Homo sapiens: one gene and its partners. The protein of the gene in region 2 purifies or fractionates together with the protein of the main gene of each other region. This does not show direct contact. Each region holds a gene or a part of one and is shown on either strand. Other genes may lie near its edges. The genes, in order: POLD1, CLSPN and LACC1.

Region 1 (3,651 bases), on a different chromosome or scaffold from region 2:
CAGCCTGGCCAACATGGAGAAACCCTGTCTACTAAAAATACAAAATTAGTCGGGCATGGAAGCGGGTGCCTATAATCCCAGCTACTTGGGAGGCTGAGGCAGGAGAATCACTTCTACACCCCAGCGCCCCCTGGGAGGCGGAGGTTGTGGTGAGCCAAGATCGTGCCATTGCACTCCAGCCTGGGCAACAAGAGCGAAATTCCATCTCAAGAAACAATAACAAAAAAGCAAAAATTTGCGGGGCGTGGTGGCTCACGCCTGTAATCCCAGCTACTTGGGAGGCTGAGGCAGGAGAATCGCTTGAACCTGGGAGGTGGAGGTTGCAGTGAGCCTCGATCGTGCCATCGCACTCCAGCCTGGGCGACACAGCGAGACTCTGTCTCAAAAAAAAAAAAAAAAAAAAAAGAAAGAGAAAAGGGGTTGGGTGCAGTAGCTCACGCCTATAATCCCAACACTTTGGGAGGCCGAGGCAGACGGATCACAAGGTCAGGAGATCAAGACCATCCTCGCTAACACAGTGAAACCCCGTCTCTACTAAAAACACAAAAAATTAGCCAGGCGTGGTGGCGGGCGCCTGTAGTCCCAGCTACTTGGGAGGCTGAGGCAGGAGAATGGCATGAACCTGGGAGGCGGAGTTTGCAGTGAGCCAAGATTGCGCCACTGCACTCCAGCCTGGGCGACAGAGCGAGACTTTGTCTTGGAAAAAAAAAAAAAAGGGAGGACATGTGGAAACAGACACGCACAGAGAGAAGACGGTGTGAAGAGGCACAGGGGGATGATGGCCGTCTGCAAGCCAAGGAGAGAGGCCGTGAACCAGTCCTCCCTTGCAGCCCCCGAAGGAAGCAGGCCCGCTGACACTTTGGTCATGGACTTTCCAGCCTTCAGGACGGTGAGACAATGACTTTTTGCTGTTTTCAGCCACCTGGTCTGTGGCTCTTTGTTACAGCAACTCGGGCAGAGGAATCCACCCTTACACACATGCAGACTCAAGAAGCATCCGGAATTTGCCCCATCAGTCAACACACTCCCCCCTCCTCCTCCATTATGATTCTTTTCCTTATGCTGATATAACCTAAAGGAAGACTGGGATTCAGTGGCTGCTTCATGGCTTGTTGAACCCCTGCAAGCTTCAGGCCGACCTTGAATGCACAGCCTTCTCTTACTCCACCGTAACGCCCTCCTTGCCTCTGATAAAAGCCACAGTAACTTTTTCGACTTGGAGCAGGGCAGGACCAGGCCTAGGCTGCCCCTGCAGGCAATCGGCTGAGGCACACAGAGCAAGATGCACCAAGCCATGTGGAGAGGGAGTGGGAAGGAGGCCCAGGGCCCGGAGGCCACACCTGGGGCATCTGAGAGAAGCCTCCCACCTGCCCAGCCCTCACCTTGAGGGTCTGGGCCCGAGAGATGAGGTACGGAAGGTCGAAGTTCTGGATGTTGTAACCGGTGATCACGTCGGGGTCCATGATACGGATGAAGGTGGACCAGGCCTGGGGGTGGGAGCACATTGGGTCACCCTGGTGGTTGCCCTGCCTCGGATTCCCCTACTTCCAGAATGTTCTAGAACCCCAGCCACCCCTGAAAATCCTGCAGAACCCAGAGGGGAAGTGCTCAAGCCTAATTGCACAGGGGCCCACCCAGACCCACAGACACCCACCCAGACCCACAGACATGGGCGTCGCAGCACCCAGGAGCTGATGGCTCAGGACGCGGAGGCTGGCGGGGACCCCGGGAAATGGTGTGGGGCGTGGAGCGAGAGCTACCTGCAGCAGGTCCTCCTCCTTCTCGTAGCTCTGCACCTTGGCACCCAGGATGGGGGCACAGGGCCGCAGGGTGAGCGCCAGGCGTAGGAAGGGCTCCGGCTCCCCCCAGCGCAGGCCCAGCGAGCAGATCTGGATGACAGGGTCCCGCTCAGGCTCAGGGAAGATGCCTGCGAGGCAGGAGGATGCAGGGGCCTGACTCCTGCCCCTCACTCCCAACACAGCAGGGAGGCTGCACCTGCCATCTCCCCGGGGCTGTCCCCGCTGCCTGCCGGCCCTACGTGGCTCACCCTGGCTCCTGCTCTGCTCTCACCTCCAGGCCATCTCCACACCCTCTGTGCTCACTCCATCTGGCCACATGGGCTGGGGTGCTCCTGCCCCGGCACCTTCATGCTTGCCATTCCCTCCACCGGACCTGCCTTTCCGACCCCCGACTTGGCACATCAATGAGGCGGGCAGGAGCCCGGGCCCGGGGACAGACCTTTGCGGCCGGCGCACTCGATATCGAAGCTGAGCACGCGCAAGGGCGCAATGCGCTGCCATGGCCCTTCCGGTGGGTGACTGACCACGTCAGACCACAGCACGTCCGCCTCCAGCTGGCACTGCGTAGCCTGTGGGCATGGGTGGGTCAGCGGTGGCAGCAGGGTACCAGCTCCCCACCCAGCCCTGCCCTGGGAAGCCCTGCACCTTCTCCTTCAGCCTCAGGGCGTATTTCCCAGCTGGGAGCTCCAGCCAGTTGCAGCCGACGATGTCCGTGTCCACCATGAACCTGGAGGGGGCTGGGGGTCAGTGGACAGGGGCTGCCCGAGGGTGGGGATAGAGGCCGGAGAAGTGAGGCAGAGGCCGTACCGGATCTCAAAGTCGACGTTGGCCTCGTAGGGCGCGAAGCTGGGCGTGCCCAGGCCTGCCACACGGATGCCCTGTTCCAGGAGACGGCGGGCCGGGGCCACGAGGCGCGGCAGCGCCACGGTGATGCGCAGGAACGGGGAGGGGCCGTGCCCGTGGTACCCAAACATGCCTGTGGATGGAAGAAGCTGGGACCAGCCAATGGCCTCCCGAGGGGACCCTCCAACCCGCTGATCCTGGGGGAGCACTCACTCTCTCGGGAGCACAGTTCCACAGCCAGCACGGCCGGCCCAGTCAGCTCCCTCCCCCCGCGACTGTCCCGGCTGATGGCCAAGTTCAGCTCCCGTTGCAGGTCACCCATGTGCTCGGGCCCGAAACCTGGTGTGGGAGGGATGATCAGAGGTGCAGGGGGCTCCAGTGGCTCAGGGAGGGGCTGGGTAGGGGCCACTCACCAGGGGGCGCTGGGGTGTAGAAGTAGGGAGCGAAGCCGTGGATGTGGCAGCAGACAGAGAACCCCTCATCGGTGACCCCGAAGGCGCGGAGCACAGGCACGGAGCCGCGGGATGGTGGGGGCCCCCCAGGCACAGGCTGCGCTGGGCCTGTGGGGTCACAGGGTAAGACAGCGGCCATGCCTCTCAGGGTCCTCCAAGGTGTGTCTCCACAGCCTCGAAATACCTTGGGGCCTGCAGCCTGGGGCACTCCTGCCCCTGTACCGTTCCCTGTGTCCATTTCAGCCTCCCCCCTGGTTCCCATCTCCAGCCTCATCCCCCAGGATCCATTCTCCACAGCACAACTACAGGGAGGCCCTTCTTTTTTATTACAAGATAAAAACAACTGGCCGTGCACAGTGACTCACACCTGTGATTCCAGTGCTTTGTGAGGCCAAGGCGGGAGGATCGCTAGAGCCCAGGACTTTGAGACCAGCCTGGGCAAAAGAGCGAGACCCAGTCTCAAAAAAAAGAAAAAAAAAAAAAAAAAAAAAAAATATATATATATATATATATATATACACATATACACAAATACACACACATATTATATGTACAAA
Region 2 (3,651 bases):
AGCTGGATCACTTGAGGTCAGGAGATCGAGACCAGCCTGGCCAACATGGTGACTCCCTGTCTCCACTAAAAATACAAAAATTAGCCAGGTGTGGTGGCATGCACCTGTAGTCCCAGCTACTTGGGAGGCTGAGACAGGAGAATCACTTGAACCCGGGAGGCAGAGGTTGCCGTGAGCCGAGATTGCGCCACTGCACTCCAGACTGGGCAACAAAGTGAGACTATCTCAAAAAAAAAAAAAGAAATCTTTCTTTCACCGAGCCCTGGTCATCATGGTACGTATCTCATGGGTGTAAAGGAGTCATTATGGTACTGATTTTCACTGTTTAATCTGTAATGTCACACTTTTCCCTACTCTTCCTCTTCCAACCACTTCTATCAATCACAAAGAGATATTAACCCAGAAAGCTGCTACAATAAAATGTCAAATGTCTAATGGAGGAAGTGAAACCTAACCCAAGGCCAGGTGCAGTGACTCATGCATGTGACCAGCACTTTGTGGGGCCGAGGTGGATGGATCATTTGAGGTCAGGAGTTCAAGACCAGCCTGGCCAACATGGTGAAACCCCGTCTCTACTAAAAATACAAAAATTAGCTGGGCGTATTGGCACATGCCTGTAATCCCAGCTACTCGGGAGGCTGAAGGAGGAGAATCGCTTGAACCTGGGAGGCAGAGATTGTGGTGAGCCGAGATCACGCCACTGCACTCCAAGCTGGGCAACAGAGTGAGACTCCCATCTTAAAAAAAAAAAAAAAAAGGAAACCTCACCCAAGTATTCCATGAGTTGTTGATGTTGTAAATACTGCAGAATTGAAATCAGTGGCCAATTCAGGGAATAATACTAGGAAAAGAGATGTCCAGAGCTGTGCAGTAGAAATCACTGGAATTTCTGTCTGCAATCTTATTGCATTGATTATGAAAGAAGGAAGGATCATTGGCTGGAGTGTCAATTCCAACTTTCAGTGCTAGAAACTTCTCAAAGCAGTCTCAATGTAGATTTTGGCACCTTTGATGGTGTTAGCTCTCCAAATATTTGAAGATGCTTCGCGTCAATCCTGAAGTGCTATCATCTGTTTTGAGGTGCTTAGGTGAAGGAGAAGTCATGAAAGATGGACCCCTTTTCTTTACCTAGAGAGCAGAGAGGGAGTCAGGGCCAGCTAAAGACCTTCATACAAGTATTTACCTTCAATTAGCTCTCAAGCAACTCATAAATTGTGGATGATTAACAACAGAAAAAAAGAAAGAAAGATAAACTTTCTCGGCAAGTTTAAAAGTTGATTACCGACTGGGGTAGCAATTCTCTTGTACCTTATCGGGGAGTGCAAGATTTCAACATTGCAGCATAGAGGTTAAGCCAGAATTTTTGTTTTTAAATTTAAATAAATGAATAAATTCTGGTTTGGGAAGCCACCATATTAGTTCTCAAATTCCATACCTGAGACTTAGACGATTCCTTTGCCGCCTCAGCCTTGACAGGAGAAAGTGTATGAAAGACAAAGTTTCTTGAATTTCGAGGAGCACTGGGGTTATGGTCAGAGAGAGCAGCCAGTTTCTGAAGCACAGCTTTGGGCTGGTTTAGCAGTGAGCCTGTCTTCACCTGAGGAAAGAAGAGTCATCTGGTATCAAATCCCAAGTGCCAACTAAAGAATGAAAAGTCCTTCCCTCCCTGCTTCCCCCTAGATATTGAGGGTACATATGCCTACCCTATTCAAATAGAAAAGAAATAGCAGACTCCTTTGACATTAACTTTTTCCCTGCAGCCACCTCCTTCCTCTAATGACAGAGACTATTCTCTAAGCTGGACCTGGGCCTTTATAACCTGTAGACTATGATGTCAGATTAACAAGGTTCCCAACCAACCTGTTGAGCACTTCCTGGTCTGATGGCTTCAAAAGGATTTCTGAGCAAAGACTTTGATTCCTGAATAACCATAGGGCGACTGGCTGGAAAGAAAAGACAGAGAGGCCTATTCTGGGAAAAGCTGATTAGAATTACTTTTAAATCTAAACAAGCTAAGAAATCTTGTAACTAAATCAATATGCTAAAGCCATGGGAACTCTGTTCTATATAATGGTGACTTTCAAACTATAATAATTGGCTCCAAGAAGAGACACAACTAAGTTGAACAGTAATCATTTAAGAAAAACAGAAGTGGTCAGTGTAGGGAATAGTGAAGAGCTTCATTTCTGGAGTTAAATATTCCTGGATTCAAATCCTACCTCTAACACTTAGGTATACAATCCTGGGCAACTAGAGAAAGCCAGAATTAACTACTCTGAGCCTTAGAACATAAAGTAAAACCAGCCACATATACTCATGAATACAGTCTCTACTGCCCAATAGTCTAAGATCTAAGTACACTGTCTCCCACCACCTCTGTGAAGCCTCTTTAAGACAGTATTAGACACAAGCTTATGATTAAGCTGCAACAGCTCCTGAAGGTTAGAGTCACCTCCAAAGCTCTACCACTAACAATCCAGGGGGCTAGACCCTAAGGAGAAACAAGAGCTCACCATTCTTCTGCAGTGCTTTGGCTGTAACTTTCTTGGCCAGTATCATAAACTGACTGTCCTCCCCAATTTCTTCTTCTTCTTCAGCTGTAATTTTCCCCTGCTGTGCCTGAAAAAAAAAAAAAATATATATATATATATATATATATATACAGCATTAAAAGTCTATAACCTTCCTAAATAGTTAGCATGGCCTGGATTGTGAAACTAGAGTTCCTGGGGTATTTGTTTTCCTTTTTGCAGCCTTTGCTGCTTTAGACAAAAAAAAATTAATCTTAGACAAACATGAAGAGAACTGTCTATGGTATAGCCTTCTCAAAACACAAAAGATAGCTCAAGGATTAAAAGAGATAGCAATATGTTGCCTAAGATTTTGAAACTATCATGACAAGCTAAGATTTTGAAACTATCATGACAAGCTAAGGGACAGTCTCATAAACTAGGGTCAGAGTAGGTGAACTCCTACCATGTCCCGAAGCCACTGCTCTCGTTCAATTCGCTCCTTCCTCCACCTGGCTTCTGACTCATCAAGCTGTTCTTCAGTCTGATCATCATCAGAGTCTCTGTGGAACAAGTCCATCTGGGAAGCATCATCTAAACAAAGAGTGAAGGTAATCAGCATTCGGCAGTCCTCACAGGAGAGGGTGCTTGGACAGACAAAAAATAAACCCTTATCATTTACTATATAATGATGTAAACTTTTCCCATCCATTAACAGAAAACAGTTACAACTAGGTCTTCACATAGCCTGTTATAGTTTTGCTTGCCATTTGCCATCTGAAACTCGACAAATATGCATTGTAACTGTTTGCTTTTTTTTTTTTTTTTTTGAGATGGAGTCTCGCTCTGTCGCCCAGGCTGGAGTGCAATGGCATGATCTCTGCTCACTGCAACCTCCGTCTCCCGGGTTCACGCAATTCTCCTGCCTCAGCCTCCTGAGTAGCTGGGATTACAGGCGCGTGCCATCACAGCCTGCTAATTTTTGAACTTTTAGTAGGGACGGGGTTTCACCATGTTGTTCAGGCTGGTCCTGAACTCCTGACCTTGTGATCCACCTGCCTCTGCCTCCCAAAGTGTTGGGATTACAGGCGTGAGCCACCATGCTCAGCCCGTAACTGATTGCTTTTAAAGACAACAACCA
Region 3 (3,651 bases), on a different chromosome or scaffold from region 2:
TTCATATATGCACAGTACAACCTTCCATATTGTCTTATAGACATAATCTAGGTACAGAATTTTATAATCAAAATCAAGTGCTTATTTAAGAAGAAATGTCTACAAAAGTTACCAGGATATCAGGCAAAATTCACCTGGCTCAGCCAGAGTATGCTTTTTAGTCATCTGGCCCTTCATCTCCTTTCCTTCTATTAGCCAGATTTTTCTCAGAAAACTTGCTTCTCCATGAACACTTTATGATATGAAATATGACTACAAGTTAGTGATACTTGATTTTAAAAGTCACATTTAAGAATCAATTTCAAACTTTTCCACATCTGTACTAAATGAGGCAGACTCTGGGTAAAGTTTTGGCGACTGGAATAGAAACATGATTTAAAACATACATTAATTTGCCTTTGTAGTAATGACAAATAATTTTCACCAGTTATTAATAACAAAACCTTGTAAATTAAAAGATGCGAAGAACTGTAAAAAACTTAAAAGTAAAAAACCGTGTATTTATATTATCTAATATTTTTTCTAAAAAACATATTCCTCTAGTTAATTAGATAATAAGAATAATTTTAAAATATCAGCTTCCTGATAGTTCATTACATTTAGGAGAATTTAGCTGAGGAATGGCTGTGAAGTAAAGTACACGCCAACTTTTCTATATGAAGTTTAAGTAGATCTCTTAAAATTAAATGCCAAATATTTCTTCCTTCACTTTTAAATCAATGAAAGATACCAGACAGGAAAATTTCTGTTATTCAAACTCAAATGAAAACAGATTTCATATTTAAAATGAGTGTTTGTGTACATGTGCATGTCAGCTGCTTAAATAACCACCACCTAAATTCTTCTTAGAGTTATTAATTGTTCTCCAAAATAAATTTCATTTTAGAACAATCAGAAATAATCAAACTTGCAGTTGAATGAAATCAGACATACCTTGTGGCTTTACGGATGTCGATACAGGGATTTGGTGAATCAAATAGTTGTACACATGCAGGATGAAGATTATGAAATGCCTCTGCTGATTCCCTTGGAAGAGTAAAACAGCAAGGTCCTACTGAAGGTCCAAGTACAACAACAATGTCTTCCAAACTGCAGCCATATTCTGCTATCATAGCATTCACTGTAGCCATAGCAACACCCAACAAAGTACCTTTCCAACCTGGTAAATAGGAATAAAAAGAGATAAGAGAAGTCAAAACATAAAAAATTTCACCTGAATTTATGTCTAAGTTAAAAGTGAGCAGATTTAGTTTGTATATTTTTCAAAGTCCAGAAATAATAAATTACATTATCATGTGGTTTTTAAATGAGCCATACTACACAAAGCACCTGACACAGAAGAGACATGTAATGGGAGTTTTCTTCATCTTCCATTTAAAGATGCTCTATACTTTTAGTTTCCACTGAGATCATAGCTTCTTAGTCTTCTATTTTTCACATTTTAAAAGATTGTGGTTAAAAACCCACAAAATTTACTATTATAACCACAAAAAAATACTATTCTAAGTATACAGTTCAGTAGTGTTGAACTCACATTGTTGTATAACCAATCTCCAGAATTTTTTCATTTGATAAAATGGAAACTCTACAACTATTAACAATAACTCCTTGTTTCTTCCTTTTACCAGCCCCTGGCAATCACCATTCTTCTTCCAGTTCCTGTACATTTGATTACTGTAGGTATATCATATAAGTGAAATCAATACAGTATTTATCTTTTTGTGACTGACTGATTTCACTTAGCATAATGTCCTTAAGGTTCATCTATATTGTAGTATGTGTCAGAATATCCTGCCTTTTTAAAGCTAAATAATATTCCATTGTATGCACACACATTTTGCTTATCCATTCATCTACCAATGTACCTTAGATTGCTTTCACCTTTTGGCTATTGCGAATAATCGTGTTATCAACATTGGTGTGCAAATATCTCTTTGAGTTCCTGATTTCAGTTATTTTGGATATACTTCCAGAAGAGGAATTTCTGGATTATATGGTAATCTATTTATAATTTTTTGAGAAATTGCCATACTGTTTTCTATAGTGGCTACACAATTTCACATTCCCACCACCAGTGCACCAGGATTTCAACTTCTCCATATCCTCAACAACACTTATTTTCTGAGGTTTTAAAATATTAGCCATCCTAATGGATGTGGGGTGATATTTCACTGTGGTTTTGATTTGCGTTTCTCTAACTTCTAATCCATGAACACAGAATTTCTCTGCATTTATTTGTGTCTTCTTTAATGTCCTTCAGCAATGTTTTGCAGTTTTCATCTCTCCCTTTTTACAAAAATATATCTATTATATTTCAATTAACAGCCTCTTTTTACTCCCTTCCCACTTGCCCAGACTATCGTTCCCTTGCCATCTTTGTCTTATCTGCCTTGCATCTTACAGTGTTCTAAGATAAAACCATCTTCTTTACTTATGCTACCTTCTTGTTGCCAAAGACAGAAAGCTAAGAATATTGCATTTTTCCTTTATTCCCTATATCTGGGTTTGATTCAGCTGATATGGTTGGCCAATAATGAGTACCCTTACACCTTCCTTAAGCACTCCATACTCATACCCTTCAAAAGGTAGGCACTCAGGTGAAGGGATCAATTTTTACAGATAAAAGGAGATGATGAAAGCAAGAAGGACTTAGGTGACAGGTTCAGCCTCTACAGGTAACCCACTGAATATGTGGTTATGGGAAGTACAGAATGAAGACATCAAGTTTCTATCTGTAAGTGGGTAGGATATCAATAATTAAAACAGGAAACCTAACTGGCAGAGAAGACTTTAGGAAAAAAATGTTGAGTTTTTGACATAATGATTTTCAGGCACCTAGGAAGATGCAGACAGTGATGTTCAAAGGGAAGCAACTAGATATAGGCATTTTGAGTTAAAGAGAGAAACTGTCAGGGCTTTTCTACAGATGAGAGTAGCTCTCTTCCTCAGTGAGCCTCCTTAGTTATCCTCTCACTTGTAGTTCATCCACCTCCTTTCTATTTGATTTTTCTATGCCTATCTATATATACATATCTAGTTAAAAGATCTTTATTAAATTAGTCCCATAGAAGAATTTTATTCTTTTTGATATCTGATAAAAGTAGTATACAATGTAGCTAATTATATTATATTTTAAAGTTAATTTATTTTTATTCTTCCAACTTTTTAGGTTCGGGGTACATATATGCAGGTTTGTTACATGGGTAAATTGCATGTCACTGGGGTTTCGTGTACAAACGATTTCATCACCCAAGTAGTGGACATAGTACCGAACAGACAGTTCTTCAGTCGTCACCCTCCTCCCACCCACCACCCTTAAGTAAGCCCCCATGTCCATTGTCCCTTTTTTTGTGTCCATGTGTACTCAATGTGTAGCTCCCACTTAAAGGATACATATGGTATCTGATTTTCTGTTCCTGCATTAATTCATTTAGGATGGCTTCCAGCTGCATCTATGTTGCTGTAAGGATATGATTTCATTCTTTTTTATGGCTTTATAGTATTCCATTATGTATATGTACCATATTTTCTTTATCCAGTCCACCACTGATGGGCATCTAAGTTGATTCCATGTCTTCATTATTGTGAAAAGTGCTGTGATGAACATACGTGTGCATGTGTCTTTATGGCAGAATAATTTATATTCCTTTG

What was found.
Region 1: the proteins of CLSPN (region 2) and POLD1 purify together in Homo sapiens (affinity purification with western blotting, with the first as the bait; one study listed by BioGRID). This does not show direct contact.
Region 3: the proteins of CLSPN (region 2) and LACC1 purify together in Homo sapiens (pull-down; one large-scale study listed by IntAct). This does not show direct contact.

The regions. Positions count from the first base shown.
Region 1 is NC_000019.10:50,401,329-50,404,979, reverse strand, and holds part of POLD1 (DNA polymerase delta catalytic subunit), read right to left. Parts: intron 3,203-3,651; coding exon 3,056-3,202; intron 2,982-3,055; coding exon 2,856-2,981; intron 2,776-2,855; coding exon 2,607-2,775; intron 2,527-2,606; coding exon 2,445-2,526; intron 2,369-2,444; coding exon 2,239-2,368; intron 1,928-2,238; coding exon 1,761-1,927; intron 1,488-1,760; coding exon 1,383-1,487; intron 1-1,382. UniProt on the Homo sapiens protein: As the catalytic component of the trimeric (Pol-delta3 complex) and tetrameric DNA polymerase delta complexes (Pol-delta4 complex), plays a crucial role in high fidelity genome replication, including in lagging strand synthesis, and repair.
Region 2 is NC_000001.11:35,735,479-35,739,129, forward strand, and holds part of CLSPN (claspin), read right to left. Parts: intron 3,105-3,651; coding exon 2,977-3,104; intron 2,620-2,976; coding exon 2,514-2,619; intron 1,944-2,513; coding exon 1,861-1,943; intron 1,598-1,860; coding exon 1,436-1,597; intron 1,129-1,435; coding exon 1,018-1,128; 3' UTR 1-1,017.
Region 3 is NC_000013.11:43,886,265-43,889,915, reverse strand, and holds part of LACC1 (purine nucleoside phosphorylase LACC1), read right to left. Parts: exon of another isoform or gene 3,126-3,651; intron 1,160-3,125; coding exon 934-1,159; intron 1-933. UniProt on the Homo sapiens protein: Purine nucleoside enzyme that catalyzes the phosphorolysis of adenosine, guanosine and inosine nucleosides, yielding D-ribose 1-phosphate and the respective free bases, adenine, guanine and hypoxanthine.